Linked DNA regions of Homo sapiens. The protein of the gene in region 2 interacts with the protein of the main gene of each other region in a pairwise test. Each region holds a gene or a part of one and is shown on either strand. Other genes may lie near its edges.

The links.
Region 1: the proteins of CDR2L (region 2) and TFIP11 interact in binary tests that used the Homo sapiens proteins (3 or more experiments, as listed by UniProt).
Region 3: the proteins of CDR2L (region 2) and ZSCAN23 interact in binary tests that used the Homo sapiens proteins (3 or more experiments, as listed by UniProt).

What each region holds. Positions count from the first base shown.
Region 1 is NC_000022.11:26,495,474-26,502,473, reverse strand, and holds part of TFIP11 (tuftelin-interacting protein 11), read left to right. Parts: intron 1-421; coding exon 422-574; intron 575-2,842; coding exon 2,843-3,370; intron 3,371-3,498; coding exon 3,499-3,605; intron 3,606-5,584; coding exon 5,585-5,753; intron 5,754-6,157; coding exon 6,158-6,401; intron 6,402-7,000. UniProt on the Homo sapiens protein: Involved in pre-mRNA splicing, specifically in spliceosome disassembly during late-stage splicing events. Intron turnover seems to proceed through reactions in two lariat-intron associated complexes termed Intron Large (IL) and Intron Small (IS).
Region 2 is NC_000017.11:74,997,569-75,004,665, forward strand, and holds part of CDR2L (cerebellar degeneration-related protein 2-like), read left to right. Parts: intron 1-1,935; coding exon 1,936-2,048; intron 2,049-3,772; coding exon 3,773-3,921; intron 3,922-4,495; coding exon 4,496-4,660; intron 4,661-5,614; coding exon 5,615-6,506; 3' UTR 6,507-7,097.
Region 3 is NC_000006.12:28,440,492-28,448,313, reverse strand, and holds the start of ZSCAN23 (zinc finger and SCAN domain-containing protein 23), read left to right. Parts: upstream 1-4,822; 5' UTR 4,823-4,915; exon of another isoform or gene 4,916-7,822. UniProt on the Homo sapiens protein: May be involved in transcriptional regulation.

The DNA of each region.
Region 1 (7,000 bases), on a different chromosome or scaffold from region 2:
TTGAGAGTTAGGGCCTGCTTATTTATCTTCATTTTAAAGTTAGAAACAAGGTTTTGTGTGCTTAAAAAATCCTTTACATTGCATTTCTAAGTTTTACATGAGGTACATTTAAAAGTAGTATAGTGCCTGCCCATAGTAGATGCTCAATAAATGTTGTTTCGTTTATCTTTATTTTTGTTTCTCCCTCCCATCTGGTGTACCTGCCTTCTGAACCTCATTATTTGTAAGAGGGCGAATGGGGTCAAGGAGTATCATTAGATAGTTTTGGTGTCTTGCAGGTGCATCCTTTCCTTCCTTCATATAGAGCTTGTAAATAAATCTAAGACAGTGAATGGTGACATCTGCTAATGGTCTCAGCTACCTCACCTGTGGTAAAAAGTGGTTGTTCCTTGCTGCATCTGACTGTATTCTTCTGGTTCAGGAGTTTCAGAAGGAGCTGAGCCAGTGGAGGAAAGACCCAAGTGGAAGCAAGAAGAAGCCCAAATACTCTTACAAGACCGTGGAAGAGTTGAAGGCCAAGGGCAGGATTAGCAAGAAGCTCACTGCTCCCCAGAAGGAACTTTCTCAAGTCAAGGTACAGGGGCCCTTGGACACCTGGTACAGGATCCACACCCCAGAAATAATCACTGAACATGTTCGAGGGTTTTTTGGATCTTTTAGCTAGGCTTTTTTTTTTTTTTTTTTTTTTGGTACCTTGCTTTTCTCACTTATTTATAGGAGTGTAATGAATAGGAACATGCTCACATAGTATTAATATCATGTTCCTATTCATTACACTCCCATATTTAGTAATAGTTACCAAGTTCCTTCTCTGCTAGGCACTCTTCACGGCACTACACTGGTAAACCAAATGATGTTCCTGTGTTTCTGGAGCTTACATCAGTGAATTTAATAACATTCTTGTTATTAAAAACTCAGTGCAAAGTGTTTATAATGAGCACGTAATTCCAGAGAGTGGCTGTGCTGTATTATTTGATCCTACCTCCGTTGTTAGACATTTAGCTTTTATCTGGTTTAGTTTGGGTTTTTGGCTGGTTAGTTTGTATATAAAACTTTGTCTTTGTTTCAGACATTTTTTAAGGATAGACATGTACATGTGCAATCACCATGTTGAATACAAAAGTACTTAAGGCATTTAAATACTCAGAAGGTTGTATTAACTCTCTCTGACCAGGAGGGCAGGAGAGAGTCCCCAGGGCTCCTTAGCCAGCATTGAGTATTTTCTTTTTTTAAGATAGATTAAATTTTCAGCCACTGTTACGTCCATGTAGTGTATTAAGTTTTCCATTACTTGGCTGGGGATGGTGGCTCACGCCTGTAATCCCAGCACTTTGGGAGGCCTAGGCGGGCAGATCACAAGGTCAGGAGATCGAGACCGTCCTGTAACATGGTGAAACCCCGTCTCTACTAAAAATACAAAAAATTAGCCGGATGTGATGGTGGGCGCCTGTAGTCCCAGCTACTCGGGAGGCTGAGGCAGGAGAATGGCATTTACTCAGGAGGCGGAGCTTGCAGTGAGCGGAAATCGTGCCACTGCACTCCAGCCTGGGGGACAGAGCGAGACTCCGTCTCAAAAAAAAAAAAAAAAAAAAAAAGTTTTCCGTTACTTTTCCAAGTAGTCAAAGAACAGTGGTGACAGTTGCCTGTTGTCATTTGCTGTAGGATATGTAGTGTGTCATAGACCTCAAAGAAAGCCTTTAGTGGGGTTCTCAAACGTGCTGTTATCTGGACGACCTGATAAGAAATAAGAGTGTCTAGGTGCCTCCCAGGAATTGAGTCTAGACTGAACCTCAGGACTCTTTTTTTTTTTTTCCTCCAGTGAGTCTAAAGCTGGTGGTTCATGGATCACACTCTTACTTAAAAAGTGGTGATGAATCATTCTGTTTCAGAAGTGTAGTCCGTATTCACATTTCCTGTTTTCCTAAAATATTGGAATTAGCTCATTGTCTAGGTTGCCTTTGTTCAGTTAGCCTTTTGTATATTTTATTTTGTTTTAAAATTAAAAGGCTGGGCGCAGTGGCTCATGCCTGTAATCCCAGCATTTTGGGAGGCTGAGGCAGGCGGATCACAAGGTCAGGAGATTGAGACCTTCCTGGCTAACACAGTGAAACCCCATCCCTACTAAAAATACAAAAAATTAGCCAAGTGTAGTGACGGGCGCCTGTAGTCCCAGCTACTTGGGAGGCTGAGGCAGGAGAATGGCTTAAACCCAGGAGGCGGAGCTTGCAGTGAGCTGAGATCGTGCCACTGCATTCCAGCCTGGGCAACAGAGCGAGATTCTGTCTCAAAATAAATAAATAAATTAAATTTAAAAAAACTTTGTTATTACACAGCAGTGTGTAGTACATTTTAGAAAATTAGGAAATAGGCAAAAATGTAGAAAATATTTTCCATCCTTCCAAGATTACCAAATGTTAACATCTTGTTATACATCCTAGATCTTTTTCTATGCTTATGTGCATTTTTTAAATCAAAATGTGATATTCTGATTGTATGTTACCTTCTTTGATCAGTACAGCTTCTACCTTTCCATTAAAATAAATTTTCACATCTACTAATACTCAGTCCCTATTTAAATTTCATGTTTCCCTAAAAAGTCTTCTCCATCTGGCTTGTTCACAGTGATCCAACCTAGAACTGCTTGCTGCATCTGATTTTGTCCCTGGAGTCTCCTTTAGGCTAGGACAGTATGGTTCCCACTTTACAACACTGCCCTTCTCCAGCTCTGTTGAATAATGTGGTTTCTACACACTTCCCCTGTCATGGGGCCTTCCCCTGGGCTTAGCTGTGTGTTTAACAGGGCTGCAGCGGTGTTAACCTTCATCCCTCTATGTTTTCCAAGGTCATAGACATGACAGGCCGGGAGCAGAAGGTCTACTACAGCTACAGTCAGATCAGCCACAAGCACAACGTTCCCGATGATGGGCTGCCGCTACAGTCCCAACAGCTGCCACAGTCTGGCAAAGAGGCCAAGGCCCCCGGCTTCGCGCTGCCCGAGCTGGAGCACAACCTGCAGCTGCTCATCGACCTCACGGAGCAGGAGATCATCCAGAATGACCGGCAGCTACAGTATGAGCGGGACATGGTGGTCAACCTCTTCCACGAGCTGGAGAAGATGACCGAGGTCCTGGACCACGAGGAGCGGGTCATCTCGAACCTCAGCAAGGTCCTGGAGATGGTGGAGGAGTGCGAGCGGCGGATGCAGCCCGACTGCAGCAACCCCCTCACCCTGGACGAGTGTGCCCGCATCTTCGAAACCCTGCAGGACAAGTACTATGAGGAGTACAGGATGTCCGACCGTGTGGACCTTGCTGTGGCCATCGTCTATCCACTCATGAAGGAGTACTTCAAGGAGTGGGATCCCCTCAAAGTGAGTTGCTGGGAAAATCAACCTATCCCTGCCTCTCGGTTGGGCTTACCCTTGCTTGATGAGTTGGTTCAATGGGCAGGGAGGGCTGGAGAGCCCGCTGCCCCTCAACTGCTCACCTTTCTCCTCAGGACTGCACTTATGGCACCGAGATCATCTCTAAGTGGAAAAGCCTCCTAGAGAATGACCAGCTCTTGTCCCATGGCGGACAGGACCTCTCAGCAGATGCCTTTCACAGGTACACCACAGAGCAGGGCTCTGTACCCCAGCTCCTTTCTCCTGGGGGGTTGGGAAGGATTGCTGAAGGTGGGGGAAGGCAGCAGTGCTGGCCTTGATTAATTCTCTGCTCATGCTGACAGTGCTTTAGGAATTTAAATTCATTTGGCTATGAATTTTTTTTTTTTAATTTTTTTGAAATGTTTTATTTCCATAGGGTTTGGGGAACAGGTAGTATTTGGTTACATGAGTAAGTTCTTTAGTGGTGATTTGTGAGATTTTGGTGTACCCATCTCCTGAGAAGTATACATTGAATCCAATTTGTAGTCTTTTTTTTTTTTTTTTTTTTGAGATGGAGTCTCACTCTGTCACCAGGCTGGAGTGCAGTGGCGTGATCGCAGCTCACTGCAACCGCCAACTGCCTGGTTCAAGCGATTCTCCTGCCTCAGCCTCCCAAGTAGCTGGGATCACAGGCACACGCCACCACGCCCAGCTAATTTTTGTATTTTTAGTAGAGACAGGGTTTCACCATGTTGGCCAGAATGATCTCAATCTCCTGACCTCGTGATCCACCCGCCTTGGCCTCCAAAAAAATGCTGGGATTCCAGGCGTGAGCCACCGTGCCTGGTTCAATTTGTAGTCTTTTATCCCTCACCCCCTTCCCATCCTTTCCCCGAGTCCCCAAAGTCCATTGTGTCATTCTTATGCCTTTGCATCCTCATAACTTAGCTTCCACTTATAAGTGAGAACATAAGATGTTTGGTTTTCCATTCTTGAGTTACTTCACTTAGAATAATAGTCTCCAATTCCAACCAACTTGCTGCGAATGCCATTATTTCATTCCTTTTTATGGCTGAGTCATATTCCATTATATTTATACCACAGTTTCTTTATCCACTTGTTGATTGGTGGGCATTTGGGTTGGTTCCACATATTTGCAACTGCGAATTGTGCTGCTGTAAATTTGTGTGAGCAAGTATCTTTCTCGTATATGACTTTTTTTTTTTTTTTTTTTTGAGATGAAGTCTTGCTTTGTCGCCAGGCTGGAGTGCAGTGGCACGATCTCGGCTCACTGCAACCTCTGCCTCCCGGGTTCAAGCGATTCTCCTGCCTCAGCCTCTCGAGTAGCTGGGACTACAGGCGCTCGCCACCATGCCCAGCTAATTTTTGTATTTTTAGTAGAGACAGGGTTTCACCATGTTGGCCAGGATGGTCTCGATCTCTTGACCTCGTGATCCGCCTGCCTTGGCCTCCCAGAGTGCTGGAATTACAGGCGTGAGCCTCCGTGCCCAGCCATGACTTCTTTTCCTCTGGGTAGATACCCAGTAGTGGGATTGCTGGATCAAATGGTAGTTGTACTTTTAGTTCTCTAAGGAATCTCCACACTGTTTTCCATAGTGGTTGTACAATTACATTTGGCCATGAATTCAGCTGACACTTGTCAAATGTCTGTTGCGTATCATGCTTGTGCTAGGTGCTGGGCTTACCCTAGGAGCACAGCAGACAGCCTCTGTCTACAGTACAGCAAAAAAAGCAGATGGGAAGTAAGGTAGTGAACAAATAAAGGCAGGATGCACACCAGGTACAGCGATAGAGAACTGCAGGAGCAACCTACTTGGAACGGGGGTTGGCACAGAGGTCTTAGGGGAGGTGACGTTGAAATTGTGATAAGAGGGTGAGAGGCATCAGCTCATGAATAGAAGCCTATAGGTGGGAAAGCACTTGATACCTGGGAAGAGGCCCTTGTGACCCTAAAGCAGCTCTGCCAGGTGGATGGGCACTACCTAGGAGACTGAGGCCTCAGATTGAGAGGAGAGTCAAGAGAACAAGGAAGAGGCAGGCTCAGTCTGGCCAGTATGGTGACTGGCCTGATGGTTTCCTCTGATTGGATTTCCATGCTGTTGCATTTTTATTCCTGATTCTAGAGAGGCAGGTGGTGGTGGTGTACTTTGAAACCAGTCAGTGTAATTAACCAGCCTGTCCTCTGCCTTTCTCCCATAGGTTGATATGGGAAGTCTGGATGCCTTTTGTTCGAAATATTGTCACCCAGTGGCAGCCAAGGAACTGTGACCCGATGGTGGACTTTTTGGATAGTTGGGTGCACATTATTCCTGTGTGGATCTTAGATAACATACTGGACCAACTCATCTTCCCCAAGCTGCAAAAGGAGGTGGGATGAGAGTCATGGGAAACAGTCGTCATCACTAATCACAGGGACTTGTTCAGTCTGTGGCTTCATTATCTCAGTGCTGTTAAAACGCCTGGAATTAACGGAATTTGTCAACACAACTATTGACCTATAGTGTTAATTCCAGCCTTTTTCTCAGCACTTTTTCCCCCAAGCCACCCTCAGGAGGGAATTCATTTTCTTGATTTTGTCACTAAAATTAGAATTGTGCTGTTTCTGAGATGTAATCAAATGGATGGGCATATTTGTTTGGCAATGTACAAAGGACTGTGGGCCTCAGAGAGCACAGGGCCTCCTCCAGGGGCAGCTCTTGCCTTTAGCCACACAGGGGTGTTATGTGACTGCCCCACAGGCGACATGAACTGTTTCTCCTCCCCACTTCGCAGGTGGAAAACTGGAACCCGCTCACAGACACTGTTCCCATCCACTCTTGGATCCACCCATGGCTGCCCCTTATGCAGGCACGGCTGGAGCCACTCTATTCCCCCATCCGTAGTAAGCTGTCCAGCGCCCTGCAGAAGTGGCACCCCAGCGACTCCTCTGCCAAGCTCATCCTCCAGCCCTGGAAGGATGTCTTCACTCCTGGCTCCTGGGAAGCATTCATGGTCAAAAACATAGTGCCCAAGCTGGGTAAGGATAAGGGGAAATGCATTCCAAGCCCAGCAGCTTTGGTGCCCTGGTTTCTGTGGTTAGCAGTGATGATTTAAAGCATCGCCTTTATGTTCATGAAAGTGCTTAGTACACAATATTCCTTGCTGTGAAAAAGGTAACATTTTGTTCAGAGGCTGAACATAAATGTAACTTGGGTCCTTTCCGCTGTTTATTTACAACAGTCACTAATAGTCGACAGTGACAATATCGGACTCTGTGCCTTGTGGTTTTCCCGATTGGTTTTGGCTTCTGGTAATAGGACAGCCATTGGAGTTCTAAAATTTTTGTGGTATTTTACTCTAAATTATTAGGGAGTTATTTCCAGGTTAGCAAAAAAAATATATATACATACACACACACACACACACATATATGTATATATATACACACATGCATATACATGTATATATACACATGTATATACACATATATGTATATACACACATATATATGTATATATGTATACACACACACACATATATATATGTGTATATATATACACATATATATTTTAAGAATCGCTATGTCGGGAGCTTAAATTTGACCTTTAAAAGCAGATTACAGCCTGAGCAACATGG
Region 2 (7,097 bases):
TGGGGATATTCATGAGCAAAACATAAAAATCCCTGCCCTGCCAGGTGCGGTGGCTCACGCCTGTAATACCAGCATTTTGAGGCCAAGGTAGGAGGGTCGCTTGAGGCCAGGAGTTCAATACTAGCCTGGGCAATATAACAAGACCCTGTCTCTACAAAAAAAATTTAAGAATTTTAGCCCAGGTGTGGTGGCTTATGCCTGTAATCCCAGCATTTTGGGAGGCCTGAGATCAGGAGTTCAAGACCAGCCTGGCCGACATGGTGAGACCCCCTCTCTACTAAAAATACAAAAAATTAGCCGGGCGTGGTAGTGGGTGCCTGTAATCCCGGCATAAAAAAGATTTTAGAAGTTAAAAAAAAAAAAAAAAAAGTACCGGGCACGGTGGCTCACGCCTGTAATCCCAGCACTTTGGGAGGCCGAGGCGGGTGGATCACGAGGTCAGGAGATTGAGACCATCCTGGCTAACACGGTGAAACCCCGTCTCTACTAAAAATAAAAAAAAATTAGCCAGGCATGGTGGCGGGCGCCTGTAGTCTCAGCTACCTGGGAGGCTGAGGCAGGAGAATGGTTAGCGTGAACCTGGGAGGCGGAGGTTGCAGTGAGCCAAGATCGCGCCACTGCACTCCAGCCTGAGCAAAAAGAGCAAAACTCCGTCTCAAAAAAAAAACATTGTACTATTCCTGTAGTCCCAGCAACCGATATTATAGTCCCACGCCTATTCACAGGCATGATCATATACACTGTAGCCTTGAGTTCCTGGGCTCAAGGGATCCTATCCCAGGCAGCCGTATTGCACCACCTTTCTTTTTTTTTTAATAGAGATGAGGTCTCACTATGTTGCCCTGGGAGGCTGAGGGAGGAAGATCGTTGAGCCCAGGAGTTCAAGGCTGCAGCACATATGATCACACCTGTGAATACTCACTGCACCCCAGCCTGGGTCCCATCCCTTAAAAGAAAAAAAAAACTGCCCCATGAGCTCACAGTTAGTTGGGGGAGCTGAAAAAGATAAAGGAGTAACTTGCTTGGGAAATTAGATGGTGCTAAGTGCTAAGGAGAAAGATGAAGCGGGGGAGAGACTGCAGGGCAGGGAACAGTGTGACTTTGAATCAAGTGATTGGGGAAAGATCTAGAGAAGTTGACAGGCACAGACTTGAAGGAGAAGAGGGAACAAGTCCTGGAAGTATCAGGAAAGAATATTCCGTGCGTGAGGCTGGCTTCTGGGTTGTCCACACCACTCTCTGCTGTGTTGACTTCCTGTTGTCTTCATCAAAGCTTTTTTCCGTGGTATTCTAAAATTAGGCCAGCAGTGGGGCTGGGAGGGCATCTGTGTTAGTCCCTTCCTGGCTGTGATCCGCCACACTCACTGTCAGTATTAAGGCCCAGCAGCCTGTTGATAAGCTACGCTGTCTCACCATGCGCTGGTGTGGAAACAGGGCCCAGCCAGCATGCCTCAAGGTAGATGGAATCCCCACTGGTCAGAGAAGAAGCCATGCGGACACTCCAGCTTGGCCTGGGCACAGCACTGACTCCTCACCCGCTAGTCTGGCTGTTAAGAGGAGAAGGTGCACTGCCTTCCAGCCTAGGAGGAGGACAGCATTTTGTATTTGTTCCACTGATGCAGCTTAGAACCACACCCCTGAGAATCGTGGCAAAACTTTCACAACCTGGAAAATGTTGAAAGCAACCATTCCTATTTTTGTTTGTTTTTTATTACATCTTGCACACACACACACACACACACACACACAGACACACACAAAAAGAACATTCCAGGCAGAAATAACAGTGCAAAGGCTTAGCTCCTGGCTTACCTCTCCTCCCAGGCCTGGAGGCTCCCAGTGTCTTGGTTACATTGGGGTCACCTAGAGTAGATGCTCGGAACATGAATGGGCGTCCTCTGCCTTTGTTCTCATGCTCGTGTTTCTCCTATCCTAGACTTGCACCTAGCTGCGGAGCTGGGGAAGACTCTGCTGGAGAGGAACAAGGAGCTGGAGGGGTCCCTGCAGCAGATGTACTCCACCAATGAGGAACAGGTGCAGGAGATCGAGGTGAGGGCCCTGCATGTGCTTGCCCACACCCCTCGAGGGCCCCTTGGCCTGTGTGTGCCTTTATGCAACTTAGAATAAGGTGCCAGCTTATCGGACACAGCCTTAGCCCAATAGCCTGGTACAGTTCACAACTGTGCTATCCTGTACAAGGATAGCACAGCTATCTCAGGCAGCCCTATTGCACAACTAGATTTTTTTTTTTTTTAAATAGACACCAAGTCTCACCATGTTGCCCAGGCTGGTCTCTAACTCCTGAGCTCAAGTGATCCTCCCACCTCAGCGTCCTAAAGTGCTAGGATTACAGGCATGAGCCACCAGGCCCAGCCTGAACCACCATTTTTAAGCCCCACTCAGCTGAAGACAAATACATCAAAGCAAACTTGTCCTTAGAAGGGGAGAAGGGGCTGCTGGCTCATGCTTGTAATCCCAGCACTTTGGGAGGCCAAGGTGGGTGAAATACTTGAGCCCAGGCAACATGGCGAAACCTTGTCTCTATAAAAAATACAAAAATTAGCTGGCTATGGTGGCATAAGCCTGTGGTCCCAGCTACTCAAGAGGATGAAGTGAGAGGATTGCTTGAGCCTGGAGGTTGAGGCTGCAGTGAGCCGTGATTGTGCCACTGCACTCCAGCCTAGGCAACAGAGCGAGACCCTGTCTTAAAAATAAATAAATAAAATAAATAAGATTTATTTCTTTTTTGAAATGGAGTCTCACTCTGTCACCCAGGCTGGAGTGCAGTGGCGCGATCTGGGCTCACTGCAGCTCTGCCTCCCGGGTTCACGCCATTCTCCTGCCTCAGCCTCCTGAGTAGCTGGGACTACAGGCGCCCACCACCGCACCCGGTTAATTTTTTTTGTATTTTTAGTAGAGACGAGGTTTCACTGTGTTAGCCAGGATGGTCTCCATCTCCTGACCTCGTGATCTGCCCGCCTCAGCCTCCCAAAGTGCTGAGATTACAGGTGTGAGCCATCACGCCGGGCATAAAAAAGATTTTAGAAGTTAAAAAAAAAAAAAAAGGCCGGGCACAGTGGCTCACACCTGTAATCCTAGCACTTTGAGAGGCCAAGGCGGGCAGATCACGAGGTCAGGAGATCGAGACCATCCTGGCTAACACGGTGAAACCCCATCTCTACTAAAAATGCAAAAAATTAGCCAGGCATGGTGGTGGGCACCAGTAGTCCCAGCTACTCAGGAGGCTGAGGCAGGAGAATGGTTGGCGTGAACCCAAGAGGTGGAGCTTGCAGTGAGCCGATGTCGCGCCACTGCACTCCAGCCTGGGCGAGAGAGCAAGACTCCGTCTCAAAAAAAATAAATTAATTAATTTAAAAAAAAAAGAGGCTGGCGTGGTGGTGCATGCCTATAATCCCAGCCCTTTGGGAGGCAGAGGTAGGCAGATCACTTGAGGTCAGGAGTTCAAGACCAACCTGGCCAATATAGTGAAACCCTGTCTCTACTAAAAATACCAAAATTAGCCAGGCATGGTGGCAGGCACCTATAGTTCCAGCTACTCAGGAGGCTGAAGCATGAAAATCACTTGAACCCAGGAGGCAGAGGTTGCAGTAAGCCGAAATCATGCCACTGCACTTCAGCCTGGGCAACACAGTGAGACTCTGTATCAAAAGAAAAGAAAAGAAAAAAGACAAAAAAAGAAGTAGGAGGGTCTAGGCAGAGACATTTGCCCCTGCCCAATTCTAAAAAGTTACTCAATGTCCTTCCACCCCCAGTACCTAACCAAGCAGCTGGACACGCTGCGGCACGTGAACGAGCAGCACGCCAAAGTCTATGAGCAGCTGGACCTGACAGCCCGGGACCTGGAGCTGACCAACCACAGGCTGGTGCTGGAGAGTAAGGCTGCCCAGCAGAAGATCCATGGGTGAGGGCCCGGCTGAGGGCTGGGGGGCGGGCGAGGGAGAGCCCCAGGGCTGAGTGTACACAGGGGCCCATGGACTGATGGGTGTGACTTGTGCACGTCTCCCTAGGAACCGGGGATGGGAGTGAGCTTGTCCTTGTCGATTTTGTGTGGTTTAACATTCAGGCCGCAACCTTGCTTTAAGCACCAACTATGCACCAGGCTCTTCTTTAGACACTGGGGATGCAACGATGGGGAAACAAAGACATTGTCCTGCCCTCTAATACCTCACAGCCTGGAAGAGAAGGCAGGCATGTAAATATTTTATGGCAGTGCAGGACAATAAGTGATAGAGGAGTGACAAGGAACTGAGGTGGCACAGAGGAGAAGCGATCAGCTCGCCTGAGAGGTACAAAAGAAGGGCGGGTCCTTGGGCATGCATAGAATTCCCCATCCTACCTCAGGACCAGACAGCGGCTCAAGGGTACCTGTCTGCCTCCTACCCAACGTCCCTCCATCTTCAGGGAGCCAGGGCTGCCGTGAGGCAAACTGGCCCCATCCCCTTAAAGTCCCTGTGTGTCCACCACCCCGCCCCCAGGCTGACGGAGACCATTGAGCGCCTCCAGGCTCAGGTGGAGGAGCTGCAGGCCCAGGTGGAGCAACTGAGAGGCCTGGAACAGCTGCGAGTGCTCCGGGAGAAGCGGGAACGCAGGCGTACCATCCACACCTTCCCCTGCCTCAAGGAGCTGTGCACCAGCCCCCGGTAGGTGAGAGCACTGCTTGGTGTCTCTGGGATTGCCAGCCATGGGAGGAAGGAGAGGCAGCAGGCAGCAGGGTGCAGTTGGTGCATCATCCAGGCCATCAGAGAGACTGGTCCTGTTGCTAATGACAGTCACAGCAGCTGGCGTTTACTGAGCCCTGGCTGTGTGCTGCCACTATGCTGATATAATTCTTATTGCAACACTGTTGGGGGTGTTTTATTATGCCTACTCTCCAGATGATAAAACTGAAGCCCAGAGGTTGTGTGTCTTATCCAAGGTCACCTGTTTAGTAAGAGGCTCAGCCAGCATGCTAACCCAGGAGGGGTAACCCACTGTGCTTTTCAGTTCCCATTAAATCTAACACTAGACAACCACTTAATAATGGAAAAATACATGTGTCATATGTAGTGGGTGTTTCAATAAGGGTCCTGGCAGGAAACAGTCTCTTACACAGAGTAATGGAGAAGTTAAATGAAGAAGAGGTGTGGGCAGGGGGTAGGGAAACCACAGGGACACTATAGTGCCCCAGGGTTGCAGCAGAGAGGAGCTGCCACCAGCCCTAGGCCTCAAAGCGCAAGGGGGAAGGGAGGTTACCGGCACCTGGAAGGTATGGAGAAGGCTGCCTGGTCACCATTAACCATGGAGAGCCCAAAGAAGACACACCCCACGGCCTCTGCTCCCCCCTCGGACCTCTAGCCAGTGCCTCTCATGGGCCAAGCTCAGGAGAGAACCAGGCAACCTGACAGAGGCGGTCCGTAGTGGTCAGCCTCCGGGGGCAGAGAGCAGGGGGAGAAGGGTGGAGGAGGGTGGAGAGCCAACGGAGAGGGGCAAACAATTTCAGCCCAGAGAACAAGAGAGATGTAAGCGCCCTGGCTGGGCTGCTCGGCCTTGGCCGTGCCCGTGACCACTGCCCTCTCCTCCGCCCCCACCCCGCTGCGACTCTCACTACCCGCCAGGTGCAAGGATGCTTTCCGCCTACACAGTTCCTCCCTGGAGCTGGGCCCGCGGCCCCTGGAGCAGGAGAACGAGCGGCTGCAGACCCTGGTGGGGGCGCTGCGCTCCCAGGTGAGCCAGGAGCGGCAGCGCAAGGAGCGGGCGGAGCGCGAGTACACCGCGGTGCTGCAGGAGTACTCGGAGCTGGAGCGCCAGCTGTGCGAGATGGAGGCCTGTCGCCTGCGTGTGCAGGAGCTGGAGGCCGAGCTGCTGGAGCTGCAGCAGATGAAGCAGGCCAAGACCTACCTACTGGGTCCGGACGACCACCTGGCCGAGGCCCTGCTCGCACCCCTCACGCAGGCCCCTGAGGCCGACGATCCCCAGCCCGGCCGCGGGGACGACTTGGGCGCCCAGGACGGGGTCTCCTCACCGGCAGCCTCTCCAGGCCACGTGGTGCGCAAGAGCTGCAGCGACACTGCGCTCAACGCCATCGTGGCCAAAGACCCAGCCAGCCGGCACGCGGGCAACCTCACACTGCACGCCAACAGCGTGCGCAAGCGGGGCATGTCCATCCTGCGGGAGGTGGACGAGCAGTACCACGCGCTGCTGGAGAAGTACGAGGAGCTGCTGAGCAAGTGCCGGCAGCACGGGGCCGGAGTGCGGCACGCCGGCGTGCAGACCTCGCGCCCCATCTCCCGGGACAGCTCGTGGAGGGACCTGCGCGGGGGTGAGGAGGGCCAGGGTGAGGTCAAGGCAGGAGAGAAGAGCCTGAGCCAGCACGTGGAGGCCGTGGACAAGCGGCTGGAACAGAGCCAGCCCGAGTACAAGGCGCTCTTCAAAGAGATCTTCTCCAGGATCCAGAAGACCAAGGCTGACATCAACGCCACCAAAGTCAAGACGCACAGCAGCAAGTGACCCTTCTCCGGCCTGCAGCCTCCCCCAGGGTGGAAGCCGTGGGGTCCCTCAGGCCTGGGCGGTGCAGCTTCCAGAGAGCGAGCGCCCTTTAGCGGCCTGCCACCACAGCACGCGGCCTCCTGATCCGGAAGCACGCAGCATGTTCCCTGCTGAGCGGAGGCAGCCCACCTGTCCTGCCTCCCAGGAGCCCTTGGCCACCTCGCGCCAGCCCAAAGGCGCAGCTCTGAGTTCAAAGCCAAATGTCCCCACTACCCCAGGGATCCCCCAGCTCCCCCAGCCCCTGGCTTCCTGACCCTGCGCCTCACCCTCAGACTGGTGACCAGGCTTCTGAAAGCCATTCTGGATCAGTTGGCTTTTTTTTTTTTTTTGGTTAAGTTTGTTTTTTCTAAGAGATTTGCAATGCAAGGTCTCCTTGACCCCTTGCCACAACTGGAAACACTTGAAAGGGGACCCCAGGGCCAGCTGTTTCAGGGGTTTCCTGGACCACCCACTGCTTCTCCCCAACCCTGATGCGCTGACATTCCCTTAGCACCAGCTGTCCCACCTCCAGGGTCCTGACCAGGTCAGAGATGTCCCCTGCCATGCAGAGCA
Region 3 (7,822 bases), on a different chromosome or scaffold from region 2:
CTTGGTGACTCCTCTTCTACTTTGAGCTTTTAAAATACTGACTGTTTATAATGAAGGAAAATAGCAACCAACTCTTTTAGACATAATAAACATGGTCAGAAGTTCTGGCCTATGACTTGAAACAAATAACCCTGAGCATTCATTTTTGAAAAACATTGTCAGATTCTTTGCTATAAGTATGAAGAGTTAATAATCTGGAAGGGAATTATAGAATTAAGCTGAACCCATGCCTGCATATTTAAAAAACAAAGCGGCTTATTTTAATGCTATCAAACTCTTCAGTATGGTATTGAATAGTCACTCATATATTCTAGCTAGGCATGTGGGTTTGTTATGATAAAAGCTGAACTTGTTCTCTCAATTTTAAGTGAAATAAATTAGTTGAGAAAAAATAATTATTTAAAATATAAGTCTTCATATTATTGTACAATATTTCTCCTTTGAGAAGATAGGATACATGATTTTCCCAAAAATCACAACTTTGAAGGAAGACTTAGTTGCTGACTTCAGTTATATCCTGGAACTGGCAAATTGTGCCCTTCCTTTGCTTCAAAAAAAGTGTAAGAAAGAGTGATAAGATCAACATTAATCATTCTTGGGTCTTTAGCAAATTCAGGATCAATGTAGAAAAACACTGGCATATCTACTTCCTCTTGGGGATTAAGCCTTTGTTCTTCAAAACAGAAGCACTGTATTTTATTGAAATACTGTCCAGCTTCAAATGGAACAACATTGTATGTAGAAATTCCAATTAGTGGTTTGTCAGCAGGATTCTTAGCTCTGTAAAACCCCAGTGCAGTGTCTCCTGGCACCACATATATTTCTGTTTGCTGAAGTCTAAAGTTCCACTGAAGACTTGCATGCACATCTGCATCAAAGTTAATTTTAATGATTCGATCCTTAACAGGCACCATGTTTTCAATCTGGTCTGAGGCATGACCTGAAACTGCTGATCCTCCAAGTCCAGTAGTCTGGCAATAGAGCCGATAAAGGGGAACGGCAGCGTAGGACGCCCCCAGCATGCCCACGGCGACAGCGGCCACGTTAAGTGAGGGTCGTCTTGTTCCGCCGCCCCCGCCGCTCCTCCTCCTGCGCGCGCCTGAAAGGGTTTGAGCTCTTAGACCGCCGCGGCGGCTGCAATGCTGGATACTGGGCTCAAAGGCTGCAGCGCTTCCATGTCTCAAGCCACCACAGTCGTCTCTGGGCACCTCCTGTCCCACTCCACTCTGGCCTAAGAAACCGCGCTACCCTCTCTGCAGCCGTGGCTGGAGACCCAGGGTGGATCCAGCGCCAGCCACAGAAAGCGACGCGCCTCCATCCCGGATGCCAGAGCCCTCCCATAACCCCCTGAACTAACAACCACCCGCCTCTCAGGGACGAGAGGTCAAATGTCGTGTTTTTTGTCTTCTTTTACTCACTATTCTGGCTCCTTTTACTATTATGTTTGTGAAATTTATCAACGTGGTTTGTAGCTGTAGTTCATTCATTTTCGTTGTTACATAGTATTCAGTTGTCTGAATAAACTTTTTTTTAAAACCCATCCTACTGTTAATGGACATTAGGGTTGTTTCCAGTTTAAAGCAATCACCAAAAAATGCTTCTAAGACATGTCTTTAGATGCAAGCACATATGCGTTTCTGGTGGCTGGGTCACAGAATACGCATACATTCAACTTTAGTAGATATGCCAGAGTTTCCCCAAAATGGTTTCACCAATGTACACTCTCATGAAAAATATGTGAAAATTCCCATTGTTCCATAATCCTTGCTGAAATTTGGCACTGTGAATCCATTTCTAGCAGGGATTTCAGCATTGCGTTTGTGATTCCTTAAGAAATATCAAAGGACCTATCATACTGGCAATATGTAAAAGCCTGAAAACATACAGATCATGAGGCTGTGTGAAGACAGGCACTCTCACACTTTGCTGTTGAGAGTACAAAATAACACAACCTCTACAAAAGTCTCTCTCTTATTGTTCATTGCAGCATTATTTGTTAAAGCAAAATATTGGAAGTAATCCAAATACCCACCCCCAAGAAACTGGTTAAAAAAATTATGGTACATCCACAGAATGAGTTATTATGCAGGTGTGAAAAAAGAGGACTACTTCAAAAACAGGACATTTCTAGGCTTTTCTGTTAGATGATAAAGCAAGGCATGAAAGAATGTATATAACATAACTTATGGGGTACAGAAGATAAATACTCATTTTTGCAAGAAAAAAGAGAAAAAGTAGGGAAGGGAGGAGGGAATGAAGAAGGAAGGAAGGAGAGGATAAATAAATAATGAAAATTGGGTATGAGTATATGTGGTAAAGGGACTGGGGATGGAAGCAGAACTCCTCTAAACATACCTTTTTATATAGTGTGGATTTTGAACTAAGTAAATGTTTTGAATTGTCAAAAAAATTAAAAAGGGATGAAAGCAAACCCTGAAATGGAATATAAACAGAAACAAATGCTCCTAACCATATATCGTTTAAAATATAACCACAGAGAAAATAATTAATTCAAATAAGGTATTTATACAGCTATACTCCCTTAATGGGATATAATTCAAAAACAAAACAAGCAAAGAAATTTTGAATTCTACATAGTAGATATGTTATTGCTAGTGATGTATTGGTATTATAATCTTGAAACTATTTTGTTTATAAGAAACTATTTTGTTTGAGTGAATTTATTTATGCTGTTGGGAGCCAGAGTTTTCACTGTGGGTGAAAAGAAAAAAAACAAATGTGCAACGGTGAAAAATGTAAAAGAATTCTGTGGAGTTGTTTTTGAACAGAAAGTATCTTATAAAATCCTCCATATATATATTATATATGTATATGGAGGATTTTATATCTGTATATAATATATATTATGTACATAATATATAGTATATAATATATTATATATGTTATATATAATACACATATATATAATATAAAATCCTCCGTATATAATATATAATATATAGGATAATATGTAATATGTATTATATATAATATATAATATATGATATATAGGATAATATATAATACGTATTATATATAATATATTATATATATAACATATTCATATATTCTAGCTCTTGTACACTGAAGGAGCCTAGAGGCAATAATATGTCCTAGTAGTGAGAGGTGAAGCTGGCTGGGCTTCCGGTTAGGGTGGGGACATGGAGAACTTTTCTGTCTAGCTAAAGGATTGTAAACACACCAATCAGCACTGTGTCTAGCTGAAGATTTGTAAATGCACCAATCAGCACTCTGTGTCTAGCTGAAGATTTGTAAATGCACCAATCAGCACTCTGTAAAAATGCACCAATCAGCACTCTGTGTCTAGCTAAAGGTTTGTAAACACACCAAGCGGCACTCTGTAAAGATGGACCAATCAGCACTCTGTAAAATGGGCCAATCAGCAGGATGTGGGCGGGGCTGAATAAGGGAATAAAAGCTGGCTACCACCCCCGCCCCAGTCAGCAGTGACAACCTGCTAGCATTGATTTTTGTGCTGTGGGATCTTTGTTCTTTCCCTTTTCACAATAAAACCTTACCACTTTTCAGTTTTTGGGTCTGCACTACTTTTAAGCATTGTAATGCTCACTACGATGGTCTGCAGCTTCAGTCCTTAAGTCAGCGAGACCACGAACCCACCAGAAGGAAGAAGCAACTGCAGGCACGCCACCCTTAGGAGTTGTAACACTCACTGCAAAGGTTTACGACCTCACTCCTGAAGTCAAGTGAGACCACGAACCCACCGGAAGGAAGAAACTCTGGACGCATCTGAACAGCAGAAGGAACAAAGTCCAGACACACCATCTTTAAGAACTGTAATGCTCACCGTGAGTATCCGCGGCTTCATTCTTGAAGTCAGAGCAGGAACCCACTGGAAGGAGCCAATTCTGGACACAGTAGACTGGCAGGAACCAATGCCAGACACAGTAGCAATGAGGTTATTCATTGCCCGAAATCCAGATCTTGGTTTCTATATACCATTTTTCACTGATGTACTGTAGCTTCATGAAGCAATGGTGATTCTAGGTTTAGGGTAGGAATAGTATAAAATGGGACTGAAATATCTTTTGTGAGAAAGTGAAGTGCACAAAAACTGTTGGGAACTTATCAAAGGACATAGAAACCTGTTTGTGGCCGGGTGCGGTGGCTCACTTCTGTAATCCCAGCCCTTTCGGAGGCCGAGGGAGCGGATCACTTGAGGGACAGGAGTTCAAGACCAGCCTCACTAAGGCATAGTGGTGTGTTCTTGTAATCCCAGATACTCAGGAGGCCGAGACAGGAGGATCACTTGAACCCGGAATGCGGAGGTTGCAGTGAGCTGAGATCGCATCCACTGCACTCCAGCCTGGAGACTTTGTCAAAAAAAGAAAAGAGAGGGAGCAGTGTGAAAGGGCTCCAACTGACCAAATTTTAAATAATTTGAGCATCAACATAATAATAACAGTAATTATTTGTAAAGGAATCCATGAGTTCATCGTGATAAAATGAGACGGCAGGGAAAAGAAAGGGTATTCTTTGCAGGAAATGGCAACTAATAAATGTAGAAATGTGCTTCAGTTTCCTCACCTGTTAAATGGAGATAATTGTACCTAACTCACAGGGTTGTTATGCGGGGTAATGAATTAATACGTGTTAAAACACTATGTTGGCCGTTATTATATTGCCGCGTGGAAGACAATGTGTCACCTAGTATCTCACTTAAGACTACAGACGGGATTCAGAGTGACGACCACAGAGGTGTGGAAACCTCCGGCCTTCCTAGAAGGAACACAGCCGGAACCGCTGTTTCGCGGAGAGCGGGCCGCGGTGACGCATTTCCGGCCTTTGTAGTTTATCATTCTTTGGGCTGCGGTTGTCAAGGATTCAGAGCAGATGTGATCTGCGCTAGGTGGCATCTCCTCTCACGGATGCCTCGGTGAGCTTCGGAGTCGGGCTACCGCTGAGGGGCTTCGGAAGGGCCAGTCTGTGCACTGCGACCTGGACTGGGTGTGGGGATTTGGCGGCAGGGTCTTCTTGGCCAGAGATGGGCCGGGCAGGTGAAGGGCAGAGGAGGTTGCTCCGCAGCCTGGAAGGGCTTTGTTAACCAAAAGTCAGCGTCGTTGCCCCTACCCCTTTCCCCCACCCTATGTCTGTTCCTGAGCTCTTCAACCTCTCTGCCCTGTACTGATGGCACTCTGAACTCTCCGTATCTGCATCTTAGGATTCAAATAGATTCGGATATGAAGAAATGTTTGTATTTTCCGATGTCTTATTCTCTACTGTGGACTTATTTTAAAGAATGAGCAGGGATAGTTTTAAACTATGCCACAGCCTTTCTTAGTCTAACTCACATAGTATAAAGGCTCTTGCTGCTATCGAATTTTTTAAAAGAATAAATAGCATCTACTATGTGCCAGCCCAGCACTGTTCTAAGCACTTTACAAATATTATCTGCTTCTCATAACTCTATGAGATAGACACTATTATTATGTAGACTACACCCCACCTCTCTGTCCCGCCCCTTTTTAAAATTAACATACAAGAAGAAAATGAAGTTAGTAACTTGCCCAAGGTCGTAGAGCGAGTAAGGGGTGTAGGCAGGATTCAAATACAGGCAATTTGGCTCCAGACTCCATTTTCTTAAAACCTTTGCTATGCTAACTCCACTCTGTTCCTATATTAGCTTTACAGCTATAACCCGGGAAGTTACTTCGCTCATTTGAATCCCGTCCTTCTTTTGTACCTCAGTAGTCCTGGGCTTCTAGTTAGGATTTGATTGGAGAGAATATATCTGAAGACGTATATCTTTCAGTGTTTCTGCAAACCTGATGAAACAGCCGTTTTATTGGTTTGTGTGCATGTTTTCACCCACTCATCTTGTTCTTTGAGCAATAGAAAAAGATTACAGTCTTGGCCCTAAGGGAAAGTAGCAACTATTAATTAAACTACCATTGTACCAAAATTGTACATTATCTTATTAAAAGATTAATTTGCATGTTTATATGCCAGGTTTTGTGCAAAAACACTTTGTATGCATTATCTCATTTAATATTCTCAACAAGTTGGCAAGGCAGTTGTTGACCTCATTTCATATATGAGCTTGAGGCTTAGAAAAATCAACTAACTTGCCCAAGATCACTGCGTTAAAATTCACAGATGGCCTGGCACTATGGTTCATGCCTGTAATCCCAGCACTTTGGGAGGCCGAGGTGGGCAGATCACGTGAGGTCGGGAGTTCGAGACCAGCCTGACCCATATGGTGAAACTCCATCCTACTAAAAATGCAAAAATGAGCCAGGAGTGGTGGTGGGTCCCTGTAATCCCAGCTACTCCGGAAGCTGAGGCAGGAGGATTGCTTGAACCTGGGAGGCAGAGGTTGCAAGTGAGCCGAGATCGCACCACTGCACTCCCGCCTGGGCAACAAAAGCAAGACTCTGTCTCAAAAAAAAAAAAAAAAAAATTAACAACCAGATCTGCCTGTGTTCTCTGCTATCTCATACTACCTTCTGCTTGTCTAAGGTAAATAAAATATATGGGCTTATATCAACTCTATGTGTGCACATGTGTATACATGTGTATATACGATTGCAAATGCATAGAAAAGGACACATTCCAGTATTTAAGACTGTTTATTTCAGGGTAATAGAACTTGGTGAAAGAATTCTATATTCCTCTCTACTTTTTGGATTTAAAAAAGGTTCTGAAGAGAAGTAATGGTACAAGATAAATTGTGACTGAGGGTGAAAGGTGGGACTCATACAGTACATGACATATGAGTGGGCAGTTGGAAGAGGGTGAGCTGAAATGGGTAAAGAAGACTTCAGAGAGGATGTGAGATTTGAATCAAGCTGCAGAGATTGGGTAAGGTTCGAATAAGGGAAGAAGGCAAGACCAAGCTCATGGCGCAGGGATGAGAAACGCCTGATTAGAATAATGAGAAGAAAAACCTGACTGGAGCTGAGAGTTTTTGCTTGTGGAATAGAGGAAACCAAGAGTGGAGCCAGACAACAGAAGCTAAAGGTCTGACTGGTTTTAAACTGTGCTTGAGAGTTTGGGAATTCATCCAATTAGTGAGGAGCCATAGATGGTGTCAGCGGAGGTGAGGGTCGTGGGATATATGATGATAAAGGCACATTTGTATTACATGCTGCTTAGTCTTCACCTACGTGCATGTCCTTGGTTAACAGCATCCTTCCATGAGGATGATGGTAGATTTGGGGGTGTTCAGCTTGCTGAGGCTCTAGGAGGAACCAACTTTAAAATGCAGATGTATTTTTTAAGGTAAGACTTATTATGCTAATTATATACCTGGCATATACATTGAGGTTGTGATCCTGAATGGAAGATTAGGAACTCTATGTTTGTGACGAGGAGGGCAGTATTACAAAAAACTGGGGAAGCCTTTTGGAGACACCAGGTTCAAAGAAGAACTCAGGTATGCTGGTGCAAGGATCTGGGTATTAAGGCCACCAGATAAAAGCAAAATCAGGTGAAGGAAAGCAAAAATGAACCCAGAGTATACAGAGAAAATAGGGAAATTTGTATTTGGGAAACTGTATAAAGATTTGAAACACCACATCCCAGAAATGAATTTTTCTGGGCAGAGCTCTAAGCTTCAGCTGCATTGCCTTTGAATAGAAAAACTTTGACTTGAAACCAAGCGGCACAGGTGGTAAATAAGAAAAAGACATTTTCGGACCCTAAAAGATTGAAAAAACAAGAAAGCATAAGTGGCTGTTTCATCCTTTGAATCCATGGTACGTTTATTGAGTAATGTGAGAGTACATATTCTGGATTTAGCTATTTGATATTTCTACCACAAAACTTTCTTACCCTAGAACCA